4 separate regions of the Homo sapiens genome follow, and regions 1, 3 and 4 are each linked to region 2. Evidence: fine-mapped expression QTL. A gene starts in region 2. Each other region holds a variant in brackets. All regions are shown on one strand. Distances are from middle to middle.

Region 1 (5,154 bases), 23 kb after region 2:
AAACAATAGCATAAGATCATATGGCGATGTGTGCTTTGGGGAAGAAAACAAAGCAGATAAAGGTAATGGCAAGTGCTGTCAGGACAATTTCCAATAGAGTCCTCAGAGTATGTCTCAGGGAGGAGACTTTTAAGAAAACCTCTGAAGGAGTTGAGGGAATGAGCCATGAGGGTCTCAGGGGAAGGGTATTCCAGACTGAGGACACAGCCAGGGCATTTACGGGCAGGGCTGGCATGATCAACAAACAACAATGGGGCTTCTCTTCCTTGAGAAAAGAGAATGAGGGGAGAATGCCAGGAGATAAAACCAGAGACATAAAAATTGTTGGATGGCGTGGGCCTTGTAGATCATTGTAAGGACTCTGGCTTTTACTCTGAAAGCAATGGGAAACTACAGCAGGCATCTGAGCAAATGAATTACAAGACCTAAATTAGCATTGCAGAGATTGATCGGCTGCTGTGGTCATCATTCAATGTAAGGGTAGGGCAAGGAAGGAAGTGAAAGGACCAGTTAAAAAGCTACTCTCAAAAACCTGAATCAGAGGGGATGTTGGTCTGGACCAAAATTGTTAGCAGTGAGTGGTCAGAATTGGGCAGATTTCTGGATAGCTTGAAGGTCGACCCAAATAGGATTTTCTGTGGACTGGATAGAGGATGAGAGAGCAAGGAGGGAGTAAGAATGTCTTCAAGATATTTGAAAAAGGATGACATTGACGTTTACTAAAATGTGAAAAACTGCAGGAGGAACAGAAGTTCAGTTTTAGACATATTAAAGTTGGAATGCCTATTAGACATTCTGGTAGAAGAATGTTGAGCCAGCAGTGGGAAACACAAGACAGGAGGGAGGCTCAAACCAGAAGTTAAAACTCTGGAGTCATGAGAAAATTTTTCCTGAAGAAATGGAACTAGATGACATCTCTTGAAGAATGCATGTAAATGGAGGAGACTAAAGGTCTGGGGACTGAGTCCTGAGGTATGCCATTGTCAGAAGTCAGGAAGAGGAGAAGACATCTGTGGGAGACAGAAAAAGAATAGCCAGCAAAGTAGGAAAGGAACTGAGAGAGAGTGATGACCTGGAAACAAAATGAATACAGTGTTTCAAGAAAGAGGAAACCATCAATTATGTTAAATGCTAAGTTGAGTAAAAGGGAAAGTGAGGGTGGACCACTGGATCTGGGAGCCTGATTCTGATGGCCTTGACAAGAGCAGTTTCAGCGTGGTGATGGAGTTTGTTCTCCAGTGGAATCTGCCTGTAGCACTCTCTCACAGCTCCCACAGCCATACAAGAACAACACTCTTTCCTTCAACTGTATTCACATTCATCCCTGGGTTCAGATTTCTCTGCTCCCACTACAGATATTATTGAATAAAAAGTAGTCCAAAGCTCTCTCTTTCCAGACTTGCAGTTGCCAAAGCCTCAAACTGGCACCCTCCCTCTGGCCTTATTTAAATTCCTGGGTGCTCCCTCCTTCACCTGATTGGTGCCTCTGTCTGCATGGGGCTCATACTTCATCCCTCAAGAGCCCAGCTGCAGCTCTCACACCTTTGACTTTCCTCCTCCTATTTGGTCTTCTCCACAGTATGATGACCATCTTGGAGTATACTGAATTAAGAATAACAGTTAACATTTTCGAGCTCCATGCATATGCTAGAGACTGTGCAAAACTCTTTATATCATTTAGGGAACTTCTGAGGTAGTACAAACATTACTGACATTCCAGATGAGAAATATGAGACACCAAGAATTTAAAAAACATAATCTCATCAAGGTTCCCACTGAATAAGTAGCAACTTTAAAAATGTAAACACCGAGGTACCCTCACTTCAGAGTTTTTCCTGAAACAGGCTTTAACAGGGAACTGGGCATAAGCCTTTATTCCGGGATTTGGAAAGAGCTCCATGGAAGAGAAGGATCACAGAAAATAGAGATGGGGCCAGCAAATAACAACTTCTCTTACTTCCCAATGTTGCCTCCCATCAATTTTGTTCTTCAGCCATATTGGAGATACTCTATGCCTCAGAAAAAAAAAATCTTGGGTCATTTTTTCCTTCCTTATCAATTTATATATGGACCAATAAAACAAGAGGGAAATATTACACTTCCAATAATTGTCTCTGTTTTCCATACAGAGTCCTGAGGAAAGAGCCTGTATTTAACGATGAGCTCCCAGCAAGCATTCTGTGTGGCATTGTGTCCGTAAAGCCTAACGTGAAGGAATTCACAGAGACCTCGGCCATTTTTGAGGATGGGACCATATTTGAGGGCATTGACTGTGTAATCTTTGCAACAGGGTATAGTTTTGCCTACCCCTTCCTTGATGAGTCTATCATCAAAAGCAGAAACAATGAGATCATTTTATTTAAAGGAGTATTTCCTCCTCTACTTGAGAAGTCAACCATAGCAGTGATTGGCTTTGTCCAGTCCCTTGGGGCTGCCATTCCCACAGTTGACCTCCAGTCCCGCTGGGCAGCACAAGTAATAAAGGGTAAGTCAATAAAGAGGCTCATGGATTGCGAAGATGAATGCCAGTGACAATAACTTTGGATCTTTGTGAAAACAATAATCCTAGTTACAAGGTCCCCTTCAGTTTTGAAAATTTATAATTCTATATTCTTTAGTGCTATATTTTGTTAGCAATTTAAAGTATACCAGTTTGGATTATTGTATGAAATACTACAAGATATTATTAGAGGAGGCATTTTGTGACTACAACTTCTTACAGCTGATAATTACCCAAGATCATTTATTAGACTTGAGACCACCAAAGCTCACATCCACTTAAGACTAAGTGAATGACAACTTTATAAAATTATGATTGCAAAACTCAGTAGAATTACATTGCTTGAAAAGTTCATAAGAAAATATGTTTACGAGCCAACATCCAGCCAACTTCAAATATCCACAGTCATGGAAAATATGATTGCTGGAAGGCAATGGCTTTTCTACTATTATTTTCTTCCCTGACAAAAAAAGGACAAACAGTGGATCAACAGAGGCAGAAAGTGCTAAGAACAAACAGTGGATCAATAGAGGCAGAAAGTGCTCAGTGTAGTAGATGATCAGTCTGTAATACATAAGAATACTGAGTTCTTATATTTTACAAAGGAAACAACAAACTTGATTGGGGTCAGGCAAGAAAGGCA[G/A]GCAGCATCCCCCAGCAGCAGGCTGGAATACAGTTGTGGGGAGATGCAGATCACACGACCAGGTAGCCAGGAAGGTAATGGCATGAAATTTCACTCAGGATTCCACTTAGGGTTCAGACCCAGAGAGGCTGGCATTAAAGGAAGGGTGCTACCCTTACTCTCTATGAGGACAAGAGTTGTAACTTGGGCTCTGAAGAAAGGAAACAAGGCAATTTATGGGGAAAATTGATGTACACGGCACAGGCTCTCTTAAGGGAAATGAGACACAAGGCAAACAACCTAGATTTGGAAAACCAGAGTACCAAGACAAGAGGGGCTAGTTACAAGCAACCCAATGGCAGTAGTCGGCAGGCTAAAAAACAGTCTCTTTCTTTTCAATCTCTTCCTCTGAAAAGCATGACAAGTTCCAAGGCCTGGAACCATACCATATCTACAAAAGCTGTTCAAGTGACCCTCCCTATAAGAAGTGTAGAAATGGGAAATTAAGCAAGCCATTGTAGGTCTTGAGTAATCATATCTGGGCTAAGAGTTTTATTCTCTTTCAAGTTGATACCAAGATTACCAAAGAAATCATCCTAAATTTGAAGTATTTCTGGACACAAAAGGCTGTTTTGGTCTGGGTTTTAGAGAACTCTGCAAACTTATGTAAACCTGGATCCTGGGGCAGCCCCAAGTCAGATCTAGTCTCCTGGGTCTCCCTTATGTCCTTGGTGACTTGTGGACAGTCCATATCCTCAGTCATATTCAAGAACTACTGGCTTCCCATAGAAAAACTTAGCCCTTCACCAAATTCGATATCTTATCTTCTGGAAATTCCATTTTCTGGCAAAGCAGGATTAATTTCTATGAAGATTTTTCTTCATAAATCTTGGAAAAGTGATGCCAATTCACCTCTGTTTGGCTATAATTTAAAAGACAACATTCTTAAAATATGACTGAGATTAAAATATATCTATGAAACTGTTTTGAAACATCTTGTAACCAGTTTAAGAGCAAAGCTATTTAGGTAATGTTTTTTAATTATTATGACAAATATGAGTTCTGAGAAGACTAGAACTGAATTTGGTGTCTGTCTGAAAATGAACACCAATTAATGTAATTCATAACTCATTATTAAAAAGGGAAAATTACAGGCTGGTCCTATGCCAGACTCATTAATTACCATCGTGTCTTTCCTTCTTTATCAGGAACTTGTACTTTGCCTTCTATGGAAGACATGATGAATGATATTAATGAGAAAATGGAGAAAAAGCGCAAATGGTAAGAGTACCTATTGTAATAGGAGTGTAGGATTTCCATAGAAAAGTGAGAATTTATGAATGCTTGGAACTGTTTTAATCTTAAATTATCCTGAATGACATCATTGGAATGACAACTACAAGCTATATTCATCCATTCAACAAATATTAATTGAAGACCTACGTTGCTTCTGACATTGTATTAAGTTCTTTTTAGTACAAGGCACAGAGTAAATAATAGGATTGAGAATCTACATTACATAGACAGTTTTAGCCCTCCATGCCTCCTGTAATATATATCATAGAAAGGAGACCCAGAAAGGATTTGAAATCAGAGGAGTTTGGGAACACATGGATGTGGACTTCCATTCTCTAGCCCATAAATTCTCTAAGATGTAGAGGATATTTCAAAGGTATACCTCTAATGAAAATGACTCAGAAAAGTGAGAATGAATCTGGAGAACTGGGCTCCATTTCTAGTTGTCACTAATTAGCTCAGTGGCCATGAACTATTATAGAAGGGTCATTTGAGCAAGAGGCAATCTATCCATTTGTAAATAAGGATAAAAAATGTCTTTCTCAGCTGCATTGCAGTGTTGGGGTATTTCCAAATGAAACCATATGAAAGTTCTTTAAAAAAACCACAAAGTAGGATAAACAAATGACATTCTCCTTATACAAGAAATTGATGTTGTATGTCAGGGTAGTGTGGGAAATTTTTTTAGAAAGAGAGAGAGATTGATGTTAATTCTCACTGATATAAAGTTGCGAGC
Region 2 (5,154 bases):
CATCACTGACTTAGAGCCCACACATACATGACAAAGATAGCTAAAAACATATGAAAAAATATATCTTTGGAAATAAACACAGCATTCCTCTGGCTATGAAACTAAAAAAGTTTGAGACACTTTTTAAACTTGTAGCAGAAGATGCAACAGACTGTCAGCTTCATTTAGCACTGCCTGCACTAATTGTTGTTCACTCGATTCTTTACGAGATATTAGCTTCAGAATATGGACCCTAAAGAATCCACATCTTTGGAATGTTCCATCATAGCTTTGATGATCAAGTCTGAGTCTCCAAAAGCCACTCTCATTTTATAGAAATCTTTCAACTGTTATGCATCATCAGACATGACAACAGGTGTCACAAGAGATATATGCCTTGCCTCCAGCAAATCAATTAGAAGAAAACAAAAATTTCTTTAAAATACAAAGAAAATATAGAGCAAGAGAACAGAATATAAGTCTTCCACTCATATCCTCCAACAGCAACAATAATCTAGCAACCATCCAGGGATGAAAGTTTCTTCTTAGCAGTTTTGTGATTTGGAGGGGACAACAGAGTAGAGAATGCCCACTGCCCCAACCAGAGCCTGGGCATTTGAGATTCTGAAGATTTAAAAAGGGGCTCTGCAGAAAGCTGTGGCAAGCAAAGGATAGGCTAGAGAGAGACAGGACTAATAAATGTGTCGACTTCAGATACATTCTTGTGAAGGACAGCAAAGAATAGGTGGCCTTTTCACCTCCTAGAGAGATAAAACATCGGAGGCCAAGGTAGAATTGGGTGTGTCCTGCCAATCTTTAAATGAATAAGGCTATAGGAGTAGTATTGCTTCCTGAAGTAGTCACAATCTTTTCTTTGCATTATTTTAATTCTATTTATGTAGCATTAAAAACTGAAAAGAAGTTCTATGTAAAATGAGAGCAGAGAAAATCATGTTGTCTGAATTGCAGCCCTAGAAAATTTCATGAACCTATGACTTGTTTTTAATTTTTATCTACAAGTCACATTTGCTCATTTTTAACTACATGCCACATTTTATATGTACCTATGTATACATGTATTTATGTGTACATACCCTTTAATCCTCTAATCCTTGTTAAAAAAAAAATAGCCAGACAGGAATTAATAGTGTAGTTATCCCTATTTTATTAATGAGTAAATCAACGATTGGAAAGGTTAAGTGATTTGCCCAAGGCCACAGAGCTATAGAAGTGATTTGGAATCTCTCATACTCACACTTCAGAGATGAAGATTACTGTCTTCAAAAGGCATGAAGGGTAATTCCTCAAAATTAGACATATACCAGTTTACACTAAGTATCACTTGCTTAATGAAGGAGTTAACTAGACAAAATGAGTGAGATGTTATAATTCTAAGTGACATCAAAATATAGTTGATAGGAAAACTTTTTTTGAAATTCTACTATATTTCATGACTGGGAGTTAGGTGCAGTTTATTTTGTCTAACTGCCAACATAATTTTACCTGGTACTAATTTTACCTGGTTCCTGGTACTAATAGATCAATTTGTGGAATTTTGATCTTTTCTGTGACCACACACTGTACTCAGAAACAAGTAAATATAAGCTTGAGAAATACAGGCCTTTGACCCCAAAATTCCAAGACAGGACATGAAAAGAGAGAGCAGAGAAAAGTCATCCTCCTTATTGGGCTATCTCAATTAAGTAGCTAAGTTTCTACAGTATTTGGAGGACTACTATGAGCTACCCACAAAAGAACTAGGAATAAGGAAAACAAGGTAAACTTTCAAATAACACATAATAAAATGGAGTACAGAACTGCAAAGTCACCTGGGAGAAACTACTTGACTCCCAGGCCAAGGGTCCAAGAGTATAACCAGCAGCTTGTGTTTACCATAATCAAAGGAAAAGTAGAAACTGGGTGGCCATGGGAGACTGGCCTACAGTCCCATCCATCACAGAGGGTTGGCGTGTGCTCACCCATTCAAGGACCAATAAATGAGTATCTCTTTAAGAGCAGCTCCTCCCATTTTTCAACAATCTTCCTAATATGTAGGCTCACTAGAACATTTTCTCTTTCAAACTGCCCAGACGGTTGGACAGGACGTAGACACACAGAAGAAAAGAAGACAAAGAACGGGTAGGAAAATTAAAAAGGTAGGAGGCTGAGGCGGGTGGATCACCTGAGGTCAGGAGCTTGAGACCAGCCTGACCAACATGGTGAAACCAAATCTCTACCAAAGATACAAAAATTAGCCAGGCGTAGTGGTGCATGCCTGTAATCCCAGCTACTTGGGAGGCTGAGGCAGGAGAATCACTTGAATCTGGGAGGCAGAGGTTGCAGTGAGCCGAGATCACACCATTGTACTCCAACCTGGATAAAAGCGAAACTCCGTCTCAAAAAAAAAAAGAAAAGAAAAAGAATAAAAGGTGATATAGTAAAGGGTTGAGGGTGGGATGGGTAAATGAAGAAGGAGCATGCTGTAGTTTTATACCAAATATGGCTAGAATGAGAATGATATAATTCAGGCAGTTTGTTTGTTTCTGGGAATCACGGATCATGATGTTTAATCATCCAAGTCTATTTCCCTGCATAGCTATGTGATTTTGTCTAAAAAGAAAAAAAAAAGTAGTGAAAGAAGTAGTGGTAGAGCCTAAAGACAGTGTCAGGAACAGAAAAAAGTTAGGAAACGTAATTTTCTTAGAGGGGAATGGACGCTGAAGGTAGTGGGAAAAAATTGTTTTTAGGTAAGAACATGACTTCTTTCCCCAACACCCCCCGGAGAGAAGGTCTCACTCTGTCACCTAGGCTACAGTGCAGTGCTGTAACCATAGCTCACTGCAGCCTCAAACTCCTGGGCTCAAGCGATACCCCAGCTCAACAGGACTATATAATCCCAGAGTAGCTGGGACTATAGGTATGCACCATTTACTTGTCTTTTTAATTGAGAAGGTGAAGTACATTATTGATGGGGAGAAGGGGTGACTACCTGGCACACTGAAATACAGACATCTTCAGACCTTGTTCCTCATTATCCGTATCTAAGTAAAAAGAAGATACAGATTGCGTGTGTGTGTGTGTGTGTGTATGACTGTGTGTGTGTATACATATACATATGTGTTTCTTCATTCCCATATACAGGCATATGTATGTGGGTGGGTGGGTGGATGTGTCTACAGGTGTTTTAGTTGCGAATCTTTATTTCTTCTGCTTACTCTTTTTGGTAGACAGTAAATGACAAAGTCCAAAAGCAAAAAAGATAAATATGTATGCTGGGTCATCAGTCTCTTAATTTTGGAGAGCTGATGACTAAAAACAAAGTGCTTATTTTTTTTTCAGAAGAAAACTTTCTCTTTAGAAATTAGAGAGAAATGAAAATGTAGTTAGATCACTAAAAGGAATTTGTTTTCTAGAGACAAGGTCTTACTCTGTCACCCAGGCTGGAGTGCAGTGGTACAATCACGGCTCACTGCAGCCTGGAACTCCTGAACTCAAGTGATCCTACCGCCTCAGCCTCCTGAGTAGCTGGGAGTACAGGCATGTGCCACCACACCCAGCTGATTTTGTTTGTTTTTTGTTTTGTTTTGTGGAGACAGGGTCTCACTCTGTTGTCCAGGCTGCTTTCAAACTCCTGGGCTCAAGTGATCCTCCCACCTCAGCCTCCCAAAGTGCTGGGATTACAGGCGTGAGCTACCATACTCAGCCAGTGTTTATTAAAAAGTAAAGTTTTTATTAAGCCAAAGAGCGAAATCAAAATAAATAGATAAATAAGTAAATACATTTTCAGCAATGTTGTTACTGGAAATGTTCTCTGGGCCTTTGCACAGGTTACCATGGGGAAGAAAGTGGCCATCATTGGAGCTGGTGTGAGTGGCTTGGCCTCCATCAGGAGCTGTCTGGAAGAGGGGCTGGAGCCCACCTGCTTTGAGAAGAGCAATGACATTGGGGGCCTGTGGAAATTTTCAGTGAGTAGCATGTTGTTGTAATAGACAGGAAAATAGGTTGGGAAGTGTATAAGAGCACACTGTGTGCACACAGGTTTCCAAACCTGCTACCATGGCAGTTATCATATCTGTTAGAATTGGAATCCACTAAGTACAGTGTCAAGAGCAGGTTGGAAAGTAACCTCCTTGCAAGTCAGAAGTAAATTAGACAATGGGCTTTGAAATTCTCCATTACAGTTCTCCCTTGATAGATCATTAATAAGAGCCACTTGGACATAAAATTAGTGGTAAATATTAGTTAGGTTTATGTAGTTATAATTATTTACTCATTTAAAACACAATAACTTTTCACATCTTTTTTTTTTTTTACAGATTTAGGGGGTACAAGTGCAGTTTTATTACATGGATATAATGTATAGCAGTTAAGTCTGGGCTTTTGTGTAGCCATGACCCAAATAATGTACATTGCACCCATTAAGTAATTTCTCATACCTCAACCGCCTCCCACTCTCCTACCCTTCCAAGTCTCCAATGTCTATTATTCCCACATTCTATGTCAATGTGTATACATTATGTAGCTCCCAATCGTAAGTGAGAGAATATGTGGTATTTCACTTTCTGTTTCTGAGTTATTTCACTTAAGATAATGGCCTCCAGTCCCATCCATGTTGCTGCAGAAGACATAATTTCATTCTGTATTCTCGCTGGGTAGTATTCCATGGTGTGTGCATATATACATACATATATATGTATATGCGTCTGTGTGTATATATACATATATGTATGTATATACCACATTTTCTTTATCCAATCATCCTTATTGGACAACAAGGTTGATTCCATTTCTTTGCTATTGTGAATGGTGCTGCGATAAACATATGGGTGCAGGAATTTTTTTTATATAATGACTTCTTTTCCTTTGGATAGATATCTACTAGGGGCATTGTTGGGTCAAATGGTAGTTCTATTTTTAATTCTTTGTGAAATCTCCATACTGTTTTCTATAGTTTATATTCCAACCAACAGTGTTTCCTTTTCTCCACATACTCACTAATATCTTTTTTTTTTTTTTTTTTTTTTTTTGAGTGGGAGTCTCACTCTGTCTCCCAGGCTGGAGGGCAGTGGCGCCATCTCAGTTCACTGCAGCCTCCACCTCCTGGGTTCAAACGATTCTCCTACCTCAGCCTCCCGAGTAGCTGGGGTTACAGGTGCCCACACCCAGCTAATTTTT
Region 3 (5,154 bases), 50 kb after region 2:
TTGTGTGTGCGGCTGTTGAATAGCCTATCAGCTCCAAATCCAGAGGGAAAAATTATGGTCTTTGCCATTTGGGCTCATTGTAGAAATAATATAATTAGGAAATAGTCCTTGTAAACACATTTTTTTTTTTAATTTCAAAGCCAAGTTTGGAGAAACTTCTAGTTCTTCTGTCCTGGATTTCCCAGCCATTGTAATCAGTTGTCGATGATACATATTTGGCTTGAAAACATATTCACATCATTCATATTGTAACTACTTCCTGTCCTGGTCTCAGTTACTGCTCTGCCTGCGCCAATAGCCTCCTCCAATAGAGTATATCAGTGCTAACTTAGAACACATTTTTATTCTTCTCCAAGCTTTTTTTAAAAAAATTTGTGGTTTTGTAACCCTGAAAGCACTCCATGAGATATAAGGTCATTAATTTTTATTTCCCAGTAGGGGGTAATCAAGAGTTAATATTTTTCAAGAATTTAATTTTCCCTATTTACATTTGCTCAGGGAAATGTGGACAGCTTAGAGTAAATCATAAAATGGCTTTCTACCATCTCCCTAGTAACAATTAAATGATGCTTGAGCATCTATTCTGGTAGTTTGTGCTAAGTACTGGGATGACAAATATGGAATATAATCACTCCTTGTAAATGGTTCCATTTCATTTGATTAAGCAAGCCATAATATAATTCCGTAATCCTTTGATAGCAAATGGGCAAAAACTCATTTGATAGCCGAACCTCTTCTGAAATCGTAAGGTTAAATACCGTGAATTGGATCAACATGAAGCTAAGTCTCACCTTCTGTTGCACGGCAGAAATTTTATTGCATTTGACAGATTGCTGCCCCAGATCTCACTAGGAGTATTATGGAGCAAAATCCAAAAATGTACACATTCCAAAATATATCTGGCCCTAAGACTTTTAAAATAAGAGATTATATAACTACAACAACAAGATAGACCTTGTCACCATCAATTCAATGGACGAGTGCCTCGAGCGTTTAGAAGAGGGTGGACTACGGAAATCTTAGTAGGTCAAAGAAAACCTCCCACAGGGATGACACTTAGCCTTGAAGGATAACCCCAGACAAGCAAAATAGAGGACCACCTGTGACACAACTCCTAGAGAGTGCATTTCCCAATAAAGTCTGCGAATGGCACTCCATAGGCCTATGCAGTCATTGGCAGTGTGCCAGCACCAGGTTAAGAGAGACCAACAATCCATGAAAGGCACAGAAAAGGCAATGAACATGGTGTGTGCAGAGAGGGATCCATGAGTTATCCAATATAGCCAGATCAGAAAGTTTACTTAAGGAAGCAATAATATGATACAAAGATCAGTAAGATTCAAAGTTGGATTCTGAGTTATCCACAAGAGGAAATTCTTCTTTTCCATAAGGTCATGTCTATAAGCAAAATTCTACTCAAAGTCCTGGTGAGGATATGGACCCATACAAATACTCAAAACTTTAGCCTCCTCCACATACCCCAGCCCTTCCTTCTTTTCTTAGAAAAGTTGCTTGGCACAATATATAATCAGAGAGGGATTTTTTTTATGTGTTACATAAGACTTTATCTTGTAAGCCTTTTTTAGAAGGTGTTCTAGCAGACAGAAACGTGGTAATTCTGAACTTTTCACTATTTGCTTTTTCTGAGAAATGAAAACCAAATGGGATTTAAATACTAGCAGGCTGAATGTGTGTTTTAAGTTTCATCCACTCCTAAATAGGGCCTCGTGTCCTCAAAAGATTTCATTACTGCTGTAATAAGAAGTTGCTCAACAGCCAGGTGCGGTGGCTCATGCCTATAATCCCAGCACTTTGGGAGGCCAAAGCGGGTGGATCACGAGAGGTCAGGAGTTCAAGATCAGCCTGGCCAACACAGAAAAACCCCATCTCTACTAAAAACACAAAAATTAGCCAGGTGTGGTGGTGGGTGCCTGTAATCCCAGCTACTCAGGAGGCTGAGGCAGGAGAATCTCTTGAACCCAGGAGGCAGAGGTTGCAGTGACCTCAGATTATGCCACTGCACTCCAGCCTGGGCAATAGAGAAAGACTCCATTAAAAAAAAAAAAAATGCTTACCAATAGGTTAGTAGCATTTTGATTGCAAAAGCTGAAGCCAGGACTATTTGAACTTTTTCCCACTCATTTATTCCTTTGTTCATTCAATGAATACATACTGTGTACTTTATGTGTAGGGTACTATATTAAGCATAAGCTGCAGATAAGAGGCCAGCCAGCACTTTAAAAGCCGTGAGAAAACAAGTATCAGAATAACTATAAGTGACTATATAATTAGGGCAATAAGGATAATGGGACCTTAGTAAAACTAAAGATGATTTGGCAGTAGCTGAGAGGGAAGGTAAAGAAAGCCATGACAAAGTTGAAGGCAACTTTTGAGCATATTTCAAGGGCATATTTAGACAAGGAGATATGGGACTCATAAGCAGAGCTGGAATAGGAAAGAAGATCAAGGTAAACTGCTTAGATGCATGTACAACATTCTGAAATTAACCTCTGACTTTGCCCTCAAGTTACTTATGTTCTCGTGGGAAAGATGAGAGATGAACACGGTTATCATCCAAGACAGATGGTGCCCACAGCTGCTTAGATCTCTGGTTCCAGGGTAAAGCTCCCTCAGCTAGAGGCAGAGTCAAAGTTGAATTTCCTCCTTACTGGCTCAAACCACACCTCATATTGAAATAATAAAAATGCATGCTCCCTGGAGCAACTGACTTGTTATCTAATACATTTGCTTTTTTGTGTTTGTTTGGAGAACAGTCTTTTCGGAAAAATTCCAAGGAGCTGTAGTGTACATACTCTTCTCTCCTGGTGTTATAATTGGCTGAGGTCAAGGGGCAAAAAAGCAGAGATTCATTCAAGATGGAAATATTCCAAGGCCTTAGCATCTGTTTCCCAGAACAGAGTCTTACATTCTTTAACCAGGCTCCATCCCACAGTTCAGCCCTGCCTCCTTTCAACAGGCAGCTGAAAAAACCTCCTTCCCACCTCT[CCTT/C]CTTCTCACAACCATCAGTAGAAGGCGCTAGCTGTGGGTGAAAGGGAAGCACTCAGCCTGCCAAACTGCTGGACATGAGCCTTCACCCTTTTTCTGACCTCCACAAAAATTTTAAAAAGTTTAAATTCCTGTGCTTCCACGCTTATGAGAAATACAGCAACCATGAATAGAGGAAGATTATGTTTTCAACTTGAGAAAAAATACTGAGGCTTTGGGCAGCCCCCCACTTCCCCACGGGGACACAATCCTCTCAACCCTTTCCAGCACTTTTTGTTTCCCTCTTCCAGAGGTCATCTGGTGTGAGAGGGAGAGACACATCTTGAATCCAGCAGCAACGTGACATTCCATCTCTTTCCCCCCATTGCACAAGAGTCCTTCCGGACCTCGGGAAGCAGAAGCTGCCAGCTCTGAAATGTATTTTCAAGGCAGCACATTGTGTGCACTTTTACCCTACCCTCACAACTGAGAGGAAATGTTTATTTTCAATTTAGCTTTTGACTGCTTCTAAAAAATAAGCCACTTTTCAATTACACAGAGGCTTTAAAATGAAGTGCCAAGATTTAACACATGTTCTAAGGGCTCTGGTTTCCTGTGTTTCTTTGGTGAGGAGTGAAGTCCAGCAACTGGTGAGCCAAAGAATAGGATTCATTTACAACAGAGCAGTGGTTCTCAAAGTGTGGTTCCTAAACCAGCCACATCAGCATCACCAGGAACTTGATAGAAATGCAAACCACCCCAGACTCCACCCCAGACAGATTGAATCCGAAATTCTAAGAATAGGGCCCAAGAATCTACGGTCTAGGGAGCTTCCAGGCGATTCTCATTACGCCAAAGCTGGGAAACCACTGCAATATTGGGTTGTTGCCAGTGAAGAGTTTGCTAAACTCCAAAAGCAAATAAATAGGCTAGAAGTCAGAGCCTCTTCTAGACAGTTTTGTTTTTTGTTTTTTTTTTAACCTGAGTATAAGATCAGAACCAGTGGTGGCACAGGAGAAAGCAAAAACCACTAAGTGGCTATAAAGACAGAGCTAACACTGAGGGTAATTACAGTAAGAGGATTCACATGGAAAGAGCTCCAGTTCTGTGCCAGGTGCTACGCGAAGGGCTTTCCATTCCTTATCTTACTGAGAGCTTTTAATTTTTGTTTACGCTTTTAAACATGAAAAGGGTTTTAGTCAACCAAGAATTGAACCACTGTGTTCACTGAAGGGAACACAATTCTTGGCTTTCTCTTTAAGCTTTCTTATTCTCCCTAGGACCACACAGAAGAAGGCAGAGCCAGCATTTACCAGTCTGTATTCACAAACTCTTCCAAAGAAATGATGTGCTTTCCAGACTTCCCTTATCCGGATGATTACCCAAACTATATACACCACAGCAAGCTCCAGGAATATATAAAGACATATGCTCAAAAGAAGGATCTTTTAAGATACATACAGTTTGAGGTAGGGGTCTCATAACTTGTACTGTTGAAATTAAGATATGTGTGGGTTAGAGAAAAAGGAGGCAGCAAACTATTATAAAAATTAGAGCCAAATGTTTGGGCACCTCAGTAATCAAATGTTGGCTCTGATTATAAAGCATTCATGCATTGATTTTTTCTCTCCTAGACTTACTAGTTCACTAGTCTCTGAGAGCTTTCAGACTACCTTAGAAAATGGAGGCAGCTAGCCCATCATTGTCCACTTTCCACCCTCATGCTCTGATGTTTTGGAAATAATCCAAAATGCTTTAGTATATATTAGGAATTTTGTCAGTTCAATGCCAATGAGTTGTGGTTCAAAAAACCAGAGCATTTGGTAGGGTTTCTCCCATTACATTATGAAAAGGTTAACAACTTAAATGGGAAATATAGTCATTGCCCCCATCTTTACCCACTCAGTTCATTAGTTTTTTTATTAAAAAGGTGAGATTTCAGCATTGTTTCTGCGAGAATAATGTTTTACATTTATTTGGGACTCTTTATTGAGCATTTCTGTCTGTATGTTTGGAACTCTTAACCTCAATTAACTGCTGCTAAATGCAGAACACTTGCATATAGTGGGAAAAACAATCAGCAAAATTATGAACCATGGTGATATTTACATCATTATTTTACCTGGAGTAGCCCCAAATGTATAGTTAAAATAAAATTTTCCAATAGTC
Region 4 (5,154 bases), 31 kb after region 2:
TACATTTACCTCTCAGTTTTTCCCACCACCAACATTCCCATATAGATTCCAAACATGTTCTTTCCTCAATCTTACTCGTCCTGGTAATGAGACCTCTAAATACCCCATTTCTCAAGCCACAAAACTAGGCATAATCCTCAATTCCTTTAGCTGCCTCCTGTATTCATTAGCCAGGGATGCCATAAGAAAGTACCACAGACTGGGTGGCTTAAACAATAAAAATTTATTTTCTCATAATTCCTGAGTCTAGAAATCCAAGATCAGGGTGTCAACAATGTTGGTTTCTTCTGAAGCCTCTCTCGTTGGTTTGTAGATAACTTCTTCTGTGTCTTCACACAGTCTTCTTCTGTACATGCCTGTGACCGAATCTCCTCTTCTCATGAAGAAACCTATTATATTGGATTAGGGACAACCCTATGACCTCATTTTAACTTAATAGCCTTTTTAAGAATGCTGTCTTCAAATATAGTAACATTCTGAAGTACTAGGGGTTAGAACTTCAATATATAAATTTGAGAGTGACACAAGTCCATCCATAACACCTCACCATTCCCCTACCTACAGCATCAGCAAATGTTCTCACTTCTGTCTACCTCCACAGCCTCCACTCAGGTCAAAGCCACCATTAACTCTTACCCATTATTCTAAGAGCCTCCTTCTTGATTCCATTCTTGCATCTTAACATTCCATTTTGTATGCAGCAGCAAGAGTAAACTTTTTCAAACGCAAATAGGATCTTGTCACCCTTCTTGCTGTGTCATGTGAGGACATGCTTCCAATTCCTTGCATGCTGCTGGCTAATCTTAAGACATAGGAGGGAAGCACCCATAATCCAGAAACTCAGCTCTCTATTGACAGTTCTCTTGGGTTAAGATAATAGTATTTAACAAAAGAAGTTCTGTCCACCCTCTTATAATTCTGAGATGGTACCTACACTGCTCAAGCCTTTTCCTACAGACATTTATACCTGCTGTATTTAAAACTTCTTTTCATAGGCTTGGTTACCAGATTTAAGTATGAAGAAAGCCCTGAAAATAGAAAGCTTTCTAAGTTGGAAACATAATTGCCCATCTCTGATTGCCAAAAGGATTAAGTTGTAATATTAGTCTCCACATGGAAATGTATAGCCTCTTGTTTGTTGTGTAACTGTGTAGTTATCCAACAAGTAGAAATTTCAATTCTTTCTGTTAAGTTCATGCCACAGGTTTGTAGAAAGGCACTTCCTGATGTTGGGAAAAACTATGGAGGCAATGAGATTTCTGTGAAGTTACCGGCTTTCCCTTTCTGCTTTTGTGCCCCTTAGAATATTTTCATGTCACTCAAATAGCCACTGCCTTCACATTTCTTCTGCTTTCACACTAATCTCATTGAAGGATCTGTAGTTTGCTCCCACTAATAATGTTTTCCCATTAAGAAAACAGCTGAAAATGTCACCTTTCTTGAAGGGAGTACATTTCAACATCTCATATAAGTGATTACTACTTTAATTATTGATGTATGAGAATCTGGTACCTCAACTGTAGGCCAGTGTGAAAAGGAACAAAGTCCAAAATCATGCATATCACAGGCTTATGCAACTTACCTGACCACGATAGAAAGGTGGAAAGTGGTCAAAATTCCGGTGTCCAACTTGATTCAATTTATAGCTGGCATCCAAGAGGACAAGATAGTGAGTTCCTTGGTTTCTCGGTCATAGCTACAATGAGGACAAGATGAGTTCCTCAATTGTAACAAGAGTCAAAATCTTACAAATGGTTCCAGAAGACCAATGTCATTCTAGATAGCCCATACATTGGTGGAATAAGACTCCAGCCAGAAGTAAATGACATGAAGAAAAGATTTAGCTCCTAGTTACAGGTAAGGGATACTCCTAAGAACCAGACAGACTACCAGAGTCCCAATCAAGTGGCCTGGAGATCAGAATAAGGCTCCAATAAGTCAAGTCATAGAGCATGGGTATATTCTCTAAGAAAGGTCCTCCAAGGAGCATATGACAACATACGACTAAACATGCAAGGAATTGATCAGGAGAATACCTGTGAAAGATAATAGGAAAGGAGCTGGAAAAGACAGGGAGAGCTGTCAGACAGGGATGCAAGTATGACCCCAAGCGAAGAAGTGAGGGGAGGAGAGTTGGGTGAAAACATTCCAGACTGCCAAGCAGTCTAGGAATGGTTTGGCAAAGCTGCAGGGGAATGCCTGAACAAAGTTGGGCATCAGAAGAGCCCTGTGTCTATAAGGCAGAGGCCTGCCTAGGTATCTCTGCCATACTCAGTCATTGGCTGGGAATAGCCTGAACAAGTACAGCCTCAGTTCAAAGACAGCATTCAATGAGCAGCTTGGGTCCATTGGTCAATTATGCTCCCTGTAGTTTGGGTCCATTGGTCAATTATGCTCCCTGTAGTTGGAGATCTGCAACTTCTCATGACCACCAGAAGGAGCCAGCCCAGTAGGATTTACCAAAGGATTGGTGAGGGAACAGGTGCAGAGTTTATACCAGATACCAATATTACCAAAGGAAAACTAATTCCAGGCCCTGCAGCTGACAATTGTTCACCTTTCGCCTT[A/G]GTTTGGATTGGCTTAGTGATCAGGAACAGCAAACTCAGCAGACTGAAATTTCTCTGTGTTTAGGTGAAAATGTGCTTCTGTGTGAAGGCACAACTGGCAATTATTAAATCTCCTCTCCCAAGCTTGAGTAAATTAAAGAGGGGCTCTGAGCTATGAATTTCAGCTCAGAGCCTTCAAAGATAAATGTTAAACTTTTGAAAATTTTCCAGCAAGATAATGGCAAATGGTTATCTAAATTTCACTGTGTAATTTGCATCCTGTCAGATAACACAACTCCTGTCAGTGTTTTATGTTGTTCCCCCAGCCTGTTTTCAAGCAGTTTTCTTCCTGTGGAACATAAAACAGACAAATAATAGTGGGGGTCACATGATCTGCTTATTTTTAGACTGCTGCTCTACTGCAAATAGCTTTCCAGTGCCACTGTGTCTCAGCCCATATGTCCTGCTATAAAGGAATATCTGAGGCTGGATAATTTATAAAGAAAAAAGGTTTCTTTGGCTCATGGTTCTGCAGGCTGTACAAAAGCATTGCACTAGTATCTGCTTCTGATGAGGGCCTCAGGCTGCTTCCACTCATGATGGAAGGGAAAGGGGAACTGATGTGTGCAGAAATTACATGGTAAGGCAGGAAGCAGTAGAGAGAGGAGGAGGCATCAGACTCTTTTTAACAACCAATTCTCACAGAACTAAGAGTGAGAACTCACTCCTGTGAGGATGACACCAAGCAGTTCATGAGAGGTCCACCCTCAAGATCCAAATACCTCCCACCAGGACCCACCTCCAACATTGGGATCAAATGTCAACCTGAGACTTGATAGGGCCAAGCAAAGTATATCCAAATCACAGCACAGTTTTTCAGCTCCAGAATAATTATCATGTTTTCCAGGGCAAAAGTTTCCATAAAAATGATAATAGTAAAGGGCAAACAGAATTCATGCTTTCTACCAACAGTTTTTGTACTAGTTATGTACTAGGGTATATTCTAGGACCTGGAGATTTAACAGGAAATTATATTAAAATAATCCCACTTTTAAGAAAGTCACATTCTATCAGGGGAAAACAGTCTATTTAAAAATACACGGGCCAAACACAGTGGCTCACGCCTATAATCCCAGCACTTTGGGAGGCCGAGGCAGGTGGATGACGAGGTCAAGAGATCAAGACCATCCTGGCCAACATGGTGAAACCTTGCCTCTACTAAAAATACAAAAAATAGCCAGATGTGGTGGCGGGCACCTGTAGTCCCAGCTATTCAGTTGGCTGAGGCAGGAGAATTGCTTGAACACGGGAGGCAGAGGTTGCAGTGAGCTGAGATCGTGCCACTGCACTCCAGCCTGGTGACAGAGCAAGACTCCGTCTCAAAAAAAAATTAAAATTAAAATTAATAGAGAACATATCATGACATAGAATAATAGAAAACAAATGGCCTTAAAAGTTGTCTAGTCCAGTCCTCTAGTTGCAAACCAAAGCAACCCAGGAAACATGTGAGGCCAGTGGTTACCAACTCCCTTTGAGTCCCAGGTGTACTTTTTCTTAAGCTACTGAAACTATATTGCTTACAGTGTATCAGCCCCAAACCTGATGGATTTCTAGTCAATTTATCAATATTCTGAAGTTCTATATTTCCCTAATCTCTAGTGCAGAAATCCAGCTGCAATTCCTTCTATTTTATCCCAGTAAGATCTCATTCTAAATCAGCAGAATGCTCCTTTTTGGCATCTTCAATGCTTGTTCCCACCCCACTGTGCCTTCGACCAATTCATTTCATCATTTCTTCTCTCTCTCTCTCATTTTTATGCTACCCATACCCAGACTCAATATTTCAGCCTCATTCTCTCTTCCCCTGGCTTGAATCCCCACTTGCAATCTAAGGATAGGTTCTATAAAGTCTACTTTCTCTATCTCTTTTGCCTCTTTCCATCTTATAATTCCCACTCTGGCAAATTAGATCTGGCTATCATTATTTTTTTTAATTTTGATATAGTATTATTTGTCTATTTTGCTTTTGCTGCCTGGTTTGTTTTTTAATTTTTTGTTCATGTTTTGTTTCGGTTTTTTTAGAGGCAGGTTTTTGTTATGTTGTCCAGGCTGGCCTGGAACTCCTGGGCTCAAGCAGTCCTCCCATCTGAGCCTCCCGAGTACATGGAACATACCACCCCACTCCCAGCTATCATAATTTCTTAGTCTGTTGGAATAGGCCTCTAACTGGCCAGCTAGACTTTAGTTTCCCTGTCATAGTTTATCCTGTATACTACTGCCAGAATCATCTTCCTGAAGTGAGCCTCTAAAACACATTACACGTGCATACAATTCTTTACTGGTTCTTCTTTCTCCCCATTTAAATCTCATACAAGGGGCCTCCCAATATGACTAAAGCTACTTTTCCAGTCTTATTTGTAACTATGTTCCAGACAAACTATACTATTTAGAGTTTTCTCCCTGAATAAACCCACCTTCATGTATATATTTATGGTTATACATGAAATATATATATAACCATAGAAAAATGCCTGAAATCCAGGCGTTTTTTAAACCCGTCTTAAATCTAAATTCTTTCCTTTGGGGTCAGACTTTGTACCTGTTCCCA

Direction of the effects. Alleles are on the strand shown, and positions count from the first base shown. SD is a standard deviation of normalised expression in the study named. Not every link is listed here.
In carriers of allele A in region 1, the expression in visceral fat of the gene that starts at base 2,059 in region 2 tends to be higher than with G alone (moderate effect, 0.60 SD a copy in GTEx).
For the expression in prefrontal cortex of the gene that starts at base 2,059 in region 2, allele C in region 3 goes with a lower level than allele CCTT (small effect, 0.29 SD a copy in BrainSeq).

Evidence for each region. PIP is the estimated chance that this variant, and not a neighbour inherited with it, causes the effect.
Region 1: its variant is the best candidate, but not a certain one, in a credible set for the expression of FMO3 in visceral fat (GTEx, PIP 0.62).
Region 3: its variant is the best candidate, but not a certain one, in a credible set for the expression of FMO3 in prefrontal cortex (BrainSeq, PIP 0.73).
Region 4: its variant is the best candidate, but not a certain one, in a credible set for the expression of FMO3 in nasal epithelium (TOPMed, PIP 0.52).

Annotation. Positions count from the first base shown.
Region 1 is chr1:171,111,878-171,117,031 of GRCh38, forward strand. It overlaps FMO3 (flavin containing dimethylaniline monoxygenase 3), which reads left to right. Exons shown (of 9, transcript NM_001002294.3): 7 at 2,130-2,485; 8 at 4,331-4,403. Among named protein-coding and RNA genes, the nearest start is that of MIR1295A, 13 kb to the left of the region's middle. The variant G/A (reference allele first, on the strand shown) is at 3,144.
Region 2 is chr1:171,088,847-171,094,000 of GRCh38, forward strand. FMO3 (flavin containing dimethylaniline monoxygenase 3) reads left to right here and starts at 2,059. Exons shown (of 9, transcript NM_001002294.3): 1 at 2,059-2,135; 2 at 3,807-3,944. The coding sequence starts at 3,813.
Region 3 is chr1:171,138,906-171,144,059 of GRCh38, forward strand. The region is part of intron 3 of FMO1-AS1 (FMO1 antisense RNA 1); the gene reads right to left. It also overlaps the pseudogene FMO6P. Among named protein-coding and RNA genes, the nearest start is that of MIR1295A, 40 kb to the left of the region's middle. The variant CCTT/C (reference allele first, on the strand shown) is at 3,007.
Region 4 is chr1:171,120,168-171,125,321 of GRCh38, forward strand. It overlaps FMO1-AS1 (FMO1 antisense RNA 1), which reads right to left. Exons shown (of 5, transcript XR_922278.4): 4 at 1,583-1,696; 5 at 205-389. Among named protein-coding and RNA genes, the nearest start is that of MIR1295A, 21 kb to the left of the region's middle. The variant A/G (reference allele first, on the strand shown) is at 2,568.